2 separate regions of the Homo sapiens genome follow, and region 2 is reported to be linked to region 1. Evidence: microRNA targets listed by miRTarBase, many of them from high-throughput screens and not tested one by one. Region 1 holds a microRNA gene; the other region holds the end of a gene's coding sequence.
The links. The annotated mature microRNA hsa-miR-4492 reads GGGGCUGGGCGCGCGCC and lies in region 1 at 5,115-5,131, shown strand. An mRNA with a match to its seed (bases 2 to 7 or 8) in the 3' UTR can be bound and repressed. Matches are read on the target gene's strand: a 7mer-m8 pairs with bases 2 to 8, a 7mer-A1 pairs with bases 2 to 7 and ends in A, and an 8mer does both.

Region 1 (7,113 bases):
TGCTAAAAATACAAAAATTAGCCAGGCGTGGTGGCAGGTGCCTGTAATCCCAGCTACTCGGGAGGCTGAGGCAGGAAAATCGCTTGAACTCAGGAGGCAGAGGTTGCAGTAAGCCGAGTTCGTGCCATTGCACTCCAGCCTGGGCAACAAGAGTGAAACTCCGATTCAAAAATAAATAAATAAATAAATAAATAAAAGAATCTAAGGGTAGTACGACTAAAATAGTCGCCTTGAGTATGGGATGTTAGCAATTTCTACTTTGTATTTCCCTATGTTTGCCAGGCACAGTGGCTCACTCCTGTAATTCCAGCACTTTGGGAGGCCAAGGCATGAGGATCGCTTGAGACCAGGAGTTCAAGATCAGCCTGGGCAACATGGCAAGACTGTCTCTACAAAAATTAGCCAGGTGTGATACATGCCTGAGCCCCAGCTACTTGGGAGTCTGAGATGGGAGGATCACTTGAGCTCAGGAGTTTGAGGTTGCAGTGAGCTGTGATCACACCACTGCACTCCAGCCTGGGTGTCAGAGAGAGACCCTGTCTCTAAACAATAAATAAATAAAACTCACAAAGTTTCTACAATGGTGCAGTCTGATGTGACATAAGTGAACTGGAGGTGGTGGCTATGGGGGGAGGTGTCTGGTCTGGGAAGCAGTAAAGGCTTCTATCATCAAAGGGTTCAGCCAGAGGCTTGGCGACCACCAGGTTAGTCCCACGGGGGAGAGAGAACTGATACAGGATGGTCTGTGAGGTTCCAGCTAGCTGTAGAGGTTTGGTATTTGACCCTCTACACCCCTGTCACAGACATAGTCTGCTCACTCCATAACATTTGCTGACTCTCTCTCCTCCTCTGTAATTGGCATCATGATAACACTGACCTCACAGGGCTGTTGTAAGGATTAAATAAAACAGAGTAGCAAAGTAGCCAATGTACTCTTTTCTTTCTTCTTTCTATGGTCCCTGCCTTCAAGGAGTTCACAATTTAATAGTCTCTGGCTAGTTTCTTTTTCTTCTTTCTTTACTTCTTTCCTTTCTTTCTCTCTCTCTCTCTTTTTAGAGATGGGGTCTCCCTATGTTGGCCAGGCTGTTCTTGAACTCCTGGGCTCAAGCAATTCTCCGGTTTCAGCTCCCCAAATTCTGGGGATTACAGGTGACAGCCACCACACCCAGCCTCTCTGGCTAGTTTCTTATGTCTCTCTCCTCAAAAAGATGTAAACGTAAACTTTGAGGGAAAAAAAATATGTACAAGCTTCCCAGGGGCAGGGGTTACATCTGGCTCTCCCCCATCACTCATGGAAGGACAAGATATAGGCGAATCCATAAAAGAATCAGAGGAGGAGTGGGCATCCCTCCACACCCACTTCTTGTCCTGGTGACACACCCTGGGTACTTGCCAGGAGTCAATTAGAGGTTAGGGAAGGGCACTAGAGACACGGCCAAGTGGCAACTCACACCCAGGCTTAGCAGGGCTTTGCACAGCAGAGCCAACTGCCCGGCTCCCAGTGTCCCTGGACGCTTCACCGCCCTCCCTCCACTAACCAGTAGGTGGCAGCATAGGCCAGGAATTCACAGGTAGAGGTGCAGGTGACGTGACCAAGAAGGAGGCCACTCCACTCTGCCCCACCTAGGGTCCCTAGGGAGAGGGGGTCACTGAGCACCTGGAAGGCAGAGGCGAGGCAGTTGCAGTGTAGGGAGGGACAGAGTCTGAGAGGTAGGATGGGAGAGAAAAATCCAGGACTCCCAGTCCTCACTTCTTTCCCAGGCTCAGTCCTCTCAAGTCCATCCCCCAGGAACATCACGGGCTACAGCACCCTGGCATCGACAGGCACTCACTGTGGGTGGCCCCAATGGGCTTGTCGTCCTCCTCACTGTCCGGTCCAGAGCACCATTCGTCCCCACTGTACGGCTGCTTCCGCTCCAGCACACAGCGCCGCTTACTCCGCGGCGCCACCTCTGCCCAGGCAGGACGGAGGAAAGAGTGAGTGCCTAGAGGCCCCATTATTCTCCCACACCCAGGGTCCCTCCCAGATCCATTCTCTAAGATGCCCCACCCTAGAGGGCACTGCCCAGGCCATGGTGGGCACTTCGCCAGCCCGTGGCCCCCACCACGCCACCATTTGTTTCTGATTTCTCTCTATAGCCCCATGCCTGTCTCCCCTCCCCCCCAACACCAAGTACAGCATAATCCCCAACCACAACTGGTTCTAATTAGGGCTGGAGGGGAGGGGGAGCTGCTGCTACTCTTCCAGGCCCCAGTGCCTGCTCCCAAAGGGCTCCCACCAGCCGGGATACGGAGGCTCCTGGAAGTGTGTGGGTCTGGGGTCTGCTCCTCACTCCATGGCACCTCCCTCTCCCCTTCTGGAGCTCTGGTGGGAAAGCAGGAGGGGAAGGAGTCCAGAAGTCCGACCACTCTGTGTGGCCCCTCCATGGGTGGCATCATGGCCAACCCCAATCCCGAATGATCTGGTTGGTGGGTGTTGAAAGGTACCCATGCAGAAATACTGGAGAAGAACGTGGGATGAGGACTGGACAAGCAGGGAGCAGAGAGGTGATCTCCCAGAACATCTGAGCCTTGGACTATGGGAGATGCTAGGGTCTTAGGGATGAGGAAATGGGGTACCTTTGGCCTCTGAATCCAGGGATGGGGTCCCAGCCTCTCGCTGCTCTCCAGAGTCCACAGACACACTCCGGTCCCTCTTCACCTTGCCCTTGAGCGAGCTGAAAGGGGGCACCCCTGCCTGGGGGTTCTTCAGACTTGAGTTGCTAGGCGAGATCTGGTTGGCCTTGGCCCCATGGTTCCCCGCCCCCACGCCCTTCGAGCCCACGTTGCAGGTGGGTCCTTGGTTCACATTCTGGTGCTGAGATTGGGCCCCGCCATTCCCTGTCTTGCCATGATTGGTCAATTTATTTTCTGGGTGCATTGGCTTGGCTGGGGCAGGGGGGCAATGACCGCGGGGGGACAGCGGCGGGCTCCCTGGAGCTTCTCTCCTCCTGGGGTGGGGTAACCTGGGAGGAGGTGGGAGAAATGTGAAAAGTTAACCTTGCTAGGGGCTAGGCATGCCTGCAACTTAATTACCCCATCCTGCCTCCCCTAACAATGGGGGAGGGTGGGGGGAAGGGGTGGTATCTCAAGACCACCACCAGCTATTCTCTACCTCCCTCCATGGCTTCCTCAGACAAGGGCTGAAGCCCTCATCCACCTTGGGGAGTGGAGATGGGGAAACCCTCCACCCCCTAGCCTCCACAATTTGAATGGAAACCAGGGCCTAGAGTTGGCAGAATTCACCCACCTCAGCCCCAAAACACCCATCAGCCTGCAAGCTTCTGTGGCAACCCTGTCCTCTGTATCAGACTTAAGCATCCTCTCTTCTAAGATCTGCTGTCTTCAGACTCCTTCCAAGGTCTCAAACCTCAACTCCCATATGTCCCAACACCAGCAGAGAAGGGCCACAGGACCTGGGGTCACTGCACATGCCCGGGTCTCATTCCCCAGGGACAGTGGGAAAACGCACACCAGGGAGTGCTACCCACTGGTCCAGACAGCTGGAGGGGAAGGCCTGAGGAGGGGGGCTTGGCAGGCCAGGCCGGCAGGCAGAAGCAGGAGGAAAGGGGGAGGGGAGCGGTGTGTCAAGCAGATGGGGAGTGTAGCTTGAAGCCAAGGATTCCTGCAGCCTAGGCTGCGGGCCCTTTAAGCTCCAGCCCGCTCCCCCCGCCGCCTCCCCCTCCCCGGAGACCTATTAATAGCCGCTGGAAAGATCACATCACGGGAGAGGATATTTATCCCCCCTCATTCCACACCAGCTCAGATTTATTTCAGCTCTGCTGTCCTGCTGCTGCCGCCTGGCCCTGTCTGCCGGCTTCTCCGGGGAGGGGGGAGGGAGGCAGGCACCGCCCCCTACTCCAGCTCCCACCTCCAGCTAGACTGAGGCCAGAGGCGGCCTTCGGACCCCACAGTAGGGTGGGAGGGGGTCTGCTCAAACCATTTTAAGGAGGGAAGAACTAGAAGGGACCAGAAGCCGCAAGCATAGCTGGCTGCCAGTCCCCTCTGCCCCCCACCCAGGCCCAGGCACTAAGGCTGGCTGCGCCTCCTGCCTCGGGCCAGGCCTTCCCATGCTAACCCCCCTTTAGCCCACTGGTGGCCTGGGAGCCAGGTGCCCAGGGCGGCTCCTCTCCTGGCCAGCACAGCTTGGGCCCCATCACCACTGGGCCCTTCCCTTCCCGCACTCCACACACACACATCCCACCCGCCACGACACCCACACACCTTGTCTTGTTAGCCAGGATCCTCATGGCTCCCACACACAGTGGGGCTACGGCCCCTGTGCGTGCCCAGGGCCCAGCCAGGTACTCGGTACTGGAGCACGGACTGCAGCAACAAGCCCCAAAGAGAAAACTCGTGACTTGGGGAGGGGGTGTCAGAGGGGGAGGGGAGAAGGGAGGACCCAACAGCCCTGGGACTAGGGAGCTGGATAGGGTGGGGTGGCACTGGAAAAAGAGGATTACGAGATGGGGTCTCGATCCTGGAGGCCAGCCCTGTCCCCATCCCTCCCGCACCTTGCCCTCAGGGGGCTTGCAGTCTCCAGCAAGCCTCCGCCCCGACGGGCGGCAGAGACAGAATTCACTAAAAGGCTAGGTAGCAAAGGTGCCGTGTGGGGCGGCTGTGAGGTCTCCCCTGGCCCCCTGAGGGATTCCTGCTCCCAGACGCGCCCCTCACCCAGGGTGGGGTACCCCTCGTGCCCCACCCCCAGAGCGCTCCAGCCGTGGAGGGGGCCCGGGGTTGGGGCCACGCCCCGCCCCGTCCCCAGCTCGAGGCCTAGCCCGTGCCCATCCCAGCAGGCCCGGGCGGGCAGCGAGAGGCCTGGCGGGGCCCCGGGGCTGCAGCTGGGCTCTTCTGGAGACCAGTAACGCTGGCTCGGATTCCTCCCCGACCGCAAGAATGCAGGAGCCTCCCCTCCCCCCGCCCTGCACCCCCACCCCGCCCCCTTCGGCAGAGCCCGGGCGGAGAGGCAGAGCGAGCGAGCGACAGCCAGCGAGGCAGCGAGCGGGAGGCGGACAGGACTGCAGCGTGCTTCTCCAGGCCCCGCGCGCGGACAGACACACGGACAAGTCCCGCCAGGGGCTGGGCGCGCGCCAGCCGGCAAGAGCTTGGCGAGCCCCGGGTGCTGCCAGCAGAGGCTCAGAGACCCACAGACACCCGAACTCTGACTCACACACACTCACAGCTCACACGTGGACAGGGAGACAAGACACGCACGGAGCCCAGGAAGCTAGAGGCGCGCCGAGGCCAGGGAAGCGCCGCCGGAGCGGGAGGCGCGGAGACAGCCTGGGGCACGCGCAGACACCGGGGCTGCCCGAGGGCTGAGTGGGAGCGCCGGACCCATTGAACAGATGAAAAGACTGAGGCCGGCCACAAGAGAGCCGAAGAAAGTTGAGCCTGGTAGTCACAAAGAAACACGCACAGGGCCATAGATACAGCAACAGACTTACACAAACACAGAGGCCTCACCCAACCGCCCCCAGCCCTGGCTCCCCCCTCGCCTCCCCTACCCGCCCTCCAGCAGCCCTCCAGCAGCCGATCCCGGTCAAAGGGGAGGAGTCTTGGGCCCAGGAGCTTCGTCCCGGTGACAGGCCCGGCCAGACACCGGTGCACACTCCTGATGCTCCCTGCGGGGCTGCTGGAGGCTGGGCGGGGACCTGGGGGTGAGGGGGCCCCACCTGCCACCCTGCGGGAGTCTAACCCCAACTTAACCCTAGGGCACATTGGCCTTCGCCACTCCAGCCGTGTCTCTGGGGAGGAAGGCTCCTGGGGGAAGGTTCCAAAGTCCAGGACCTGCCTGGGAAGCAGCCCGCCACCCCCAGCTTCTCCATCACAACCAGGGAAGAGCAGAGGCAGAGGCTGGAGTCACTGAGATACCAGGGCTCTGAGCAGGCTCCTGGCTGGCATGCATCTCAGGCTCTCCCTTCACCAGCTCGCTGATTCTCAAAAGGATCGACCCCATTTCAACGAGGAAACTGAGGTCTGGGAAAAGGAAGTGGCGTGACCTTGAGTCACATATCCAGTATGTGGCAGTGTGGGGACGGACCCTCATTCCAGACACTGCAGTGACCCCACCTCCCCACGCCAGCCATGACTGCTCCTCTGAGCCTGCATCAGATAGTTGGGCTTCCCACATTCCAGCCACAGTGCCCAGGTCCCCCATAAGGGGGGAGGGGCAGGGCAAGGGCCACTCACTACCTATGTTCACAGCCTCAAAAATTGAGAACCTGTAAGAATTTGGGAAGGGGCTATTAGAAAATCAGTCCTCTCCAGTGGCCGTTCAGGCCTAGGCTCCTCCCCAGAAGACTCTTCCAGTCACCCTCCCCTCCGGGACTCCACCCCCTCTCTCCCACCCCGCCGCAGGGCGAGCTGAGTCAAGCGTGGATGAGTCAGGACTTTCCCATCTCACACCTCCCCCCTTTGCCCCTCAAGAGTCTGCCCCAGCTCCCGAAGACCCCTCCTCCTCCACACACTCACAGTCTCCGAAGACACCTGGAAGGCCTGGTGATGGGAAGCCAAGAGGGCTGATCCCAGCCCAATGCAATTTTAAAGCACCCAGTGAAGGGGGCTTGCTAGTACCAGGCCAGGGGCCCTTGAGGTACGAGAAAGCAAAGGGATGGGGCTCTGGGAACACGTCACCGTGCCTCCCTCTTAGGGGGTTAGGTGGGGAGGGGTAGCAAGCTCACAAACAGGGAGCAGGTGCGAGTCACCTGAGTGGAAGGCCAGGCGCATACCAGGAGAATGAATCGGAGGAGCGGAAGAGGCGGCTTGACAAAGGGCCTGAGATATCCATCCGCTCCCCCACCCCGAGTGACGCGAGGGTAGGAGCTAGCAGCCTAAGGGTTGCTAAGGGTTAAAGTGGACTTGATCCTAGCTGGGGGAGGGAGCTGAGGAAGGCTCAGATGCCCAGAGCCTCCAGGTATGACACACCGGCTCTGCTCCACACACAACTACCACAGGTAGGGCAGGCGTTCACACATCCAGTGGCAACCTGCCTGCTCCTAGCTGCCCCCACGTTGGGAGCCTCTGCTTGGCTCACCAGCTGGCCCAGCAGTGTCACTGCCTAGCTCAAAACCA
Region 2 (7,102 bases), not on the chromosome of region 1:
CTCCCAGCCAGGCTCAGCAGCTGGTCAGACCCGGTGCACATCCAACCATCTGCCTGTCCCGGCCTGTGCGACCTTGCGAGGCTGCTTTCCTACTCTGAACCCGCAGCCCTCCCAAATCTACTACAGTCGGTTAAGAAAGGCTTTGGGTTAGTCTCTGCCTGCCAGGGCTCCACACAGGCGTGTGTGTGCACTTGTACGTGTGCACACGCAGACCACACGCCCTGCCTGTGCCCTGGGTGACAGCTAGGGGCCCAGGGGCTTCTGCCCACCTTGGCCCTGCTGACCTCAGCCCATCAGCCGGTCCCTGCCTCATACGACATGTGCCACCGTGAGCTCCTGCACTACAGGCAGCTTCCAGGCTCCACTCCCTGTCCGCACCATGCCCTCTGCCTGGGACGCACAGGTCCCATTCACTCTGGCCAGCACCTGCTCAAGCTCCCCAGGATGCCTCCCCAGAGTCACCAACCAGGCCAAGTGCCTCCTCCACTCTCCTGGCCCCAGGGGTTTCTTCTGTCCTGTGCAGCTCGTTGTCCACTACACACAGCATGGTGGCGGGTGCATGGTGCACGCTCAGTTGGTGGTGGGAGGAAGGAAGGGACGGAGGGAGGGAGGGAGGGAAGATGATGTTGGTTGGAAAGAAGGAAGGAAGATGGATGAGTGATAGATAAGTGGACGGCTCCCTCCCAAGATCGAAGCCCAACCCCAGGGCATGCCTTCAGGGGAGCCTGGTGAGGCAAGGGCAGACTCACCAGATGGTCTCAGAAAGCTCTTGGGCTTTGAGGGCAACACCCATGAGGAATTGAGGCCACTAGGGCCAGGACCAACCTATGAATTGCCCTCAGGGTGGGCAGAAACGCCAAGAGGCCCACAGGAGTCCTGGCAGAAGGGGATGCCATAGGCCGTTGCCACGGTGGGAGCCACAGCAGACTGTAGCCAGGTGCAGTGTGGTGAGAAGGAGGCTGGGAGCCACAGCAGATTGTAGACAGGTGCAGGAGGGTGAGAGGGAGGCTGGGAGCCACAGCAGACTGTAGACAGGTGCAGGGGGTGAGAGGGAGGCTGGGAGGAGGCATCCCAGGCCACACTGGACAGATCACCTCTGTTCCCCTAGGTGACACCACCTCTCCCTCGAGGCCACCAGGAGGCCCCATCATCACCGTCCACCCAAAGGAAATCCGGACGTTCTTTATTCACTTTCAACAGCAGTGAGCCCTGGGCAGATGCCCCGGCCCCAGGGCTTCCCCCAGGAACTCCATGTAACAGAACAGACCCAGGACAGGGAAAAGCAGTGCGGAGGGATGGGACTGGGGAGTCAGCTGCTCATCTGCAGGCTAATGGCAGGAAATGGTCATATTTGGGGTTTTTCCCTAATTTTTTTAAACAAAAATTACATTACAAGATCCAGGTTCTTCCCCCCCACACTCAATCAAGCCAGCCCTCTCCTCTTCTGTCACGTAAAGGATATTTGGCACACTCATGCGTCATTCATTCACAAAACACAAACCCAGGACTTTCTGCCTAAGGCAGAGCACAAGACTCACAGCAGCACCGAAGCGCATCTGCCGTCCGGGCCCTGCCAGGCTTGCCAGGCTGCCAGTGGTAACTGTGGACCTACTGCGTGCCACGTGTTTTCATAGACTCATCCCATGCTGGCAACAGCCCTGCAAGGGGCTTGGCTCTGCCACAGGGCAGGAGAGGAAGTTGTAGCGCCTAGCGAGAGTTCCAGCCCCAGACGCCCACCTGTGCCTCAGGGCACCGCCTGCCGAGCAGAGAAGGCACAGCAGCCGTCAGAGTCCATGAGAGGTGAAACCACACAGCAGGGATGTCCAATATCAGAACTATTAATATCAATAAAAGTATAACCTTCCCAGGTCTATGCCCAAGAGAATTGAAAACATCCATCCACACAATACCTGTGCTCCCGCGTTCATAGCAGCATTACTCAAAAGTCAAACGGTAGCAACAACCCAAATGTCCATCCACAGATGAATTAAGACATGAAGTGTGTTCTGTCCATACAATGGAATATTATTTGGCCATAAAAAGGAAGGAAATTCTGACGCATGCCACAGCCTGAGTGAATCCTACAAATATTACGCTAAGTGAAAGAAGCCAATCACGAGTTTATGTGAAATGTCCAGAATAGGCAAATCTGTGTATCAGAGACAAAGCACATTGGTGGTTGCCAGGTACTGGAGGAAGAGAGAAGAGGCATGACAGCTAACAGGGACGGGCTTTCTTTGGAAGATGATGAAATTGTGGAATGATGGTTGCACAACTTTGTGAATATACTAGAAACCAATGAATTAAAAACTTTGGAAGATGAATTTTATGGTCTGTGAATTATATCTCAATTTTAAAACTTTTTTTTTTTTTTCCCGAGACAGAGTCTCACTCTGTCGCCCAGGCTGGAGTGCAGTGTCAAGATCTCAGCTCACTGCGACCTGCACCTCCTGGGTTCAAGCAATTCTCCAGCCTCTGCCTCCCGAGTAGCTGCTACTAGAGATGCACCACTGCGTCAGCTAATTTTTGTATTTTTAGTAGAGACGGGGATTCACCATGTTGGCCAGGCTGATCTGGAACTCCTGACCTCAGGTGATCTGCCTGCCCCGGCCTCCCAAAGTGCCAGGATTACAGGCGTGAGCCAATGTGCCCGGCCTAAACCGTTTTAAAGAGTAAACTGTAAGATGTAGGAAATTATTTGGTACTCTAGGGCTGAAGGAAAGTACCCAGAAAGGACCAGCTTGGAAGGAGTCAGACCTCTGGACAACGTGCAGTTTGGCCACCAGACAGCAAAGACAGTCTCTGGTTTGGCCAGGCAGGAGCTGGGCTGGAGTTGCTGACCAAGCAATAGGCCACCCCTGTGAGGTGGGGTCAGGTGAGCAGCCACCAGAGGCATGGATGTGCAGTGGGAGGTTGAGGCACAAGGAGTGAGGCAGGAGCCCTTTAGAGCATGTGGGCTGCATGAGGCTTGGTTTCTGTGTCAAGAAGACTATGGAGGCTGGGCAGTGGTTCATGCCTTAATCCCAGCACTTTGGGAGGCCAAAGCAACCGGATCACTGGTGGTCAGTAGTTCAAGACCAGGCTGGCCAACATGGTGAAACCCCATCTCTACTAAAAATACAAAGTTAACCGGGTGTGGTGGTGTGCGCCTGTAGTCCCAGCTACTCGGGAGGCTGAGGCAGGAGAATCAATCACTTGAACCTGGGAGGCGGAGGAGACCTCCGCCTCTGCACTCCAGCCTGGGTGACAAGAGTGAGACTCCGTCTCAAAAAAAAAAAAAAAAGGAAGACTACGGAGGCCAGGCGTGGTGGTTCATGCCTGAAATTCCAACACGCTGGGAGCCCTAGGCAGAAGGATCGCTTGAGCCCAGGTGTTCCAGACCAGCCTCGGCAATATAGTGAGACCCCATCTCTACAAAAACTATTCTTTAGACGAGCGTGGTGGTGTGCACCAGTGGTCCCAGCTACTCTGGGGGCTGAGGTGGGAGGCTCACTTGAGCCCAGGAGGTCGAGGCTTCAGTGAGCCATGATCATGCCACTAACTCCAACCGGGGTAATAGAGCAAGACCCTGTCTCAGAAAAAAATAAAGAAGACTATGGAAATGTTATCCCCAGCGCAGCCAGGCTGTAGAAAAATCATGTGCACTGAAAGTACCATCACCCATGCTGACCATCCCCGTCCAGAACAGAAACAGCAAGAGAGCCACTTCCCCCTGCGGTCCCTCCAGCACCCAGCACCCTCAACTGGGAAGAGTGAGAAGAATATAGATGACAGGGGAAAACCCACCCACAATAGACAGAATATTGGCTAAAATCTAACATCCATTTGTTGCTTTGTTGTTATTTCATTTCATTTTACTTTTTTAGACACAGGGTCTCGCTCTGTCACCCAGGTGGGAGTGCAGTGGCACTATCATAGCTCACTGGAACCTCTTAACTCCTGGGCTCAAGTAGTCCTCCCATCCCACCCTCCTGAGTAGCTGGGACTACAAGCATGAGTCACTACACCCAACTAATTTTTAAAATGTTTGTGGAGACGCAGTCTCACTATGTTGCCCAAGCTGGTCTTGAACTCCTGAGCTCAAGCGATCCTCCCACCTAGGCCTCCCAAAGTGCTGGGATTACAGGCTCAAGCCACTGTGAATGGCCTGTTTTTTGTTGTTGTTGTTTGTTTTTTTTTTTTTTTTTTTTTTTTTTTTACAAACCACCACCACCAAACTCCCAATAAACTACGTTGCTCACTGACAATCCCCAACAGGTTTATTGCGGAACTTGACAGGATGATTCTGAAGTGCACTGGGGCTAGGTACAGTGGTTCGTGCCTGTAATCCCAGCACTTTGGGAGGCCAAGGTGGGTGGATCACTAGAGGCCAGGAGTTCGAGACCAGGCTGGCCAACATAGTGAAACCCCCTCTCTAAAAAAATACAAAAATTAGCCAGGCTTAGTGGCAGACGACTGTAATCCCAGCACTTTGGGAGGCCGAGGCGGGCTGATCACCTAAGGTCAGGAGTTCGAGACCAGCCTGACCAACATGGAGAAACCCCGTCTCTACTAAACATACAAAATTAGCCGGGCATGGTGGTGGGCACCTGTAATCCCAGCTACCCGGGAGGCTGAGGCAGGAGAATCTCTTGAACCCAGAAGGCGGAGATTGCGGTGAGCCGAGATCGTGCCACTGCGCTCCAGCCTGGGCGACAAGAGCGAAACTCTGTCTCAAAAAAAAAAAAACACACACACACACACACACACAAGTGCACATCTTCGTCCGTTTGGGCTGCTGTCATAGAATCCCGTACACTTTGGGAGGCCAAGGTGGGCGGATCACAAGGTCAGGAGATCGAGACCACAGTGAAACCCCGTCTCTACTAAAAATACAAAAAATTAGCCGGGCGTGGTGGCGGGCGGCCTGTAGTCCCAGCTACTCGGGAGGCTGAGGCAGAAGAATGGCGGGAACCCGGGAGGCGGAGCTTGCAGTGAACCGAGATTGTGCCACTGCACTCCAGCCTGGGTGACAGAGCGAGACTCCGTCTCAAAAAAAAAAAAGAATACCATACACTGAGTGGCTTATCAACAACAGGAATTTATTTCTCCCAATTCTGGATGCTGGGAGTCCAAGGTGCCAGCAGATTCGGTGTCTGGGGAGGGGCTGTTTCCTGGTCTATAGATGGTGCCGTCTTGCTCCGTCCTCACATGGCAGAAGGGGCAAGGCAGCTCTCTGGGCTCGGTTTCTAGGAGGGTGCTAATATAACAGTACTGAGTCTACCTTAAAGAAAAATTGTGTTTGCTTGAGTATAATTACAGCTTTGCTTACGCTTACACACTATTCATTAAAAACAGCCTCAGGGAAAGAGGACCTTCAGCAGAGATAAGAGAGAAGTGCACTGACCAGCAATCCTGGAAGCGGCTAGCCGCAGGTTTCCACCCACCAGATGAGAATAGTTGGGCTGAGGTCGAGGCAGGAGGATCACGTAAGTCCAAAAGTTTGAGACCAGCCTGGGCAAAATAGGGAGACCCCGTCTCTATAAATAGTAACAAAATTTAAGTAGGTGTGGCACACGCCTGTAGTCCCAGCTACTCAGGAGGCTGAGGTGGAAGGATCCCCTGAGCCAGTGAAGTCAAGGCTGCAATGAGCCATGCCTGGGCAACAGAGTGAGACTGTCCAAAAAAAAAGCAAAACTAAGACTAATCTGGCTGGCCTGGTGCAGCCAGCACTTTGGGAGGCTGAGGGGGAGAGATCATTTGAGCCCAGGAGTTGGAGACCAGCCTGGGCAACTTGGTAAAACCCAATCTCTAAAAAAAATTTTAAAATTAGCCAGGTGTGATGGTGCGTGCCTTTAGTCCCAGCTACTGTAGAGGGTGAGGTGGGAGGATCACCTGAACCTGGGGAGGTCAAGGCTACAGTAAGCCGTGATCATGCTACTGCACTCCAGCCTGGGCAACAGAATGAAACCCTGTTCCAAAAAAAAAAAAAAAAAAAAAAAAAAAAAAAATAGCTGCACTTGCAAAAGGTCACATGACATCCCCGCAAGACAGCAATCGTAACTACCTGCCTGAGACTGCGCACATAGCTGCTGTTCCACAAGAATGCTTTGATCATCATTCGCACTTCCCCAGATTTCCCTTAAAAACGTGCATCTGGAGACACAACTTGGAGAGGTGATCTTTGAACACAAGAGTTCAGTGCCCCTGCCCCCACCTCCCAAGCTGCTGGCTTCTCGAATAAAGCTACCTTTCCTTTTACCAAAACTTGTCTCTCGAATGTCGGCGAGTGAGTGGCCTGAACCCGAGTTCAGTTACACTAATCCCCATAACCTAATCACCTCCCAACATCCCCACCTCCTAATACCATCAACTGGGGGATTAGGGTTCGGTATATGAATTTAGGGGGACAAAAACATTCAGACCAGAGCAAACAAAGAGCTCAGAAGCTGGACCGCGCACACGGAAGCTGATAGAAGAGAGATGGGGCCGGGCGCGGTGGCTCACGCCTGTAATCCCAGCACTTTGGGAGGTCGAAGCGGGTGGATCATCTGAGGTCGGGAGTTCGGGACTAGCCTGACCAACACGGAGAAACCCCGTCTCTACTAAAAATACAAAATTAGCCAGGTGTGGTGGTGCATGCCTGTAATCCTAGCTACTCAGGAAGGCTGAGGCAGGAGAATCGCTTGAACCCGGGAGGCGGAGGTTGCGATGAGCCAAGATCGCGCCACTGCACTCTAGCCTGGGCAACAAGAGCGAAACTCGGTCTCAAAAAAAAAAAAGAGCGAGATGGGGTGCCACATGGTGAGGAAGAATGTTGCATGGCAGAGGTGCTGTGACAACTCCCCCTCACTTGGAACAAAAAGAAACTTCACCCTCCCTCGCATCGTACGCAGACAGCCCCCAGCTGAAACCCCAGCGGTCAATACAGGCGTGAAAAGATGGTCAGCCTCCTTAGCATTCAGGTCTGTGCAAATGAAAACCACAATAAGACACTGTTTCACATCTGCCGTGTTTTCTATTTAAAAGATTAAAAATATGGGCAATTTTTTAGTGGACAATCATGGAAACTCTCTCAGACTTCTAATGTGAGAGTAAACAGAAGGAGCAAACTTAAGAAACT

Region 2: the mRNA of MAN2B2 is a reported target of hsa-miR-4492. Seed matches in the 3' UTR shown: 7mer-m8 at 1,429-1,435 and 7mer-m8 at 1,720-1,726.

The regions. Positions count from the first base shown.
Region 1 is chr11:118,905,651-118,912,763 of GRCh38, forward strand. MIR4492 (microRNA 4492) reads left to right here and starts at 5,058; the gene lies at 5,058-5,137. It overlaps BCL9L (BCL9 like), which reads right to left. Exons shown (of 10, transcript NM_001378213.1): 3 at 4,264-4,365; 4 at 2,620-3,005; 5 at 1,833-1,952. The coding sequence starts at 4,289. RefSeq lists enhancers at 1,813-1,882, 3,611-4,152, 5,236-5,775, 6,043-7,113, 6,318-6,859 and 1 more.
Region 2 is chr4:6,620,080-6,627,181 of GRCh38, forward strand. MAN2B2 (mannosidase alpha class 2B member 2) reads left to right here. Exons shown (of 19, transcript NM_015274.3): 19 at 1,109-3,283. The coding sequence ends at 1,206. Among named protein-coding and RNA genes, the nearest start is that of MRFAP1, 17 kb to the right of the region's middle. RefSeq lists a silencer at 2,371-2,564.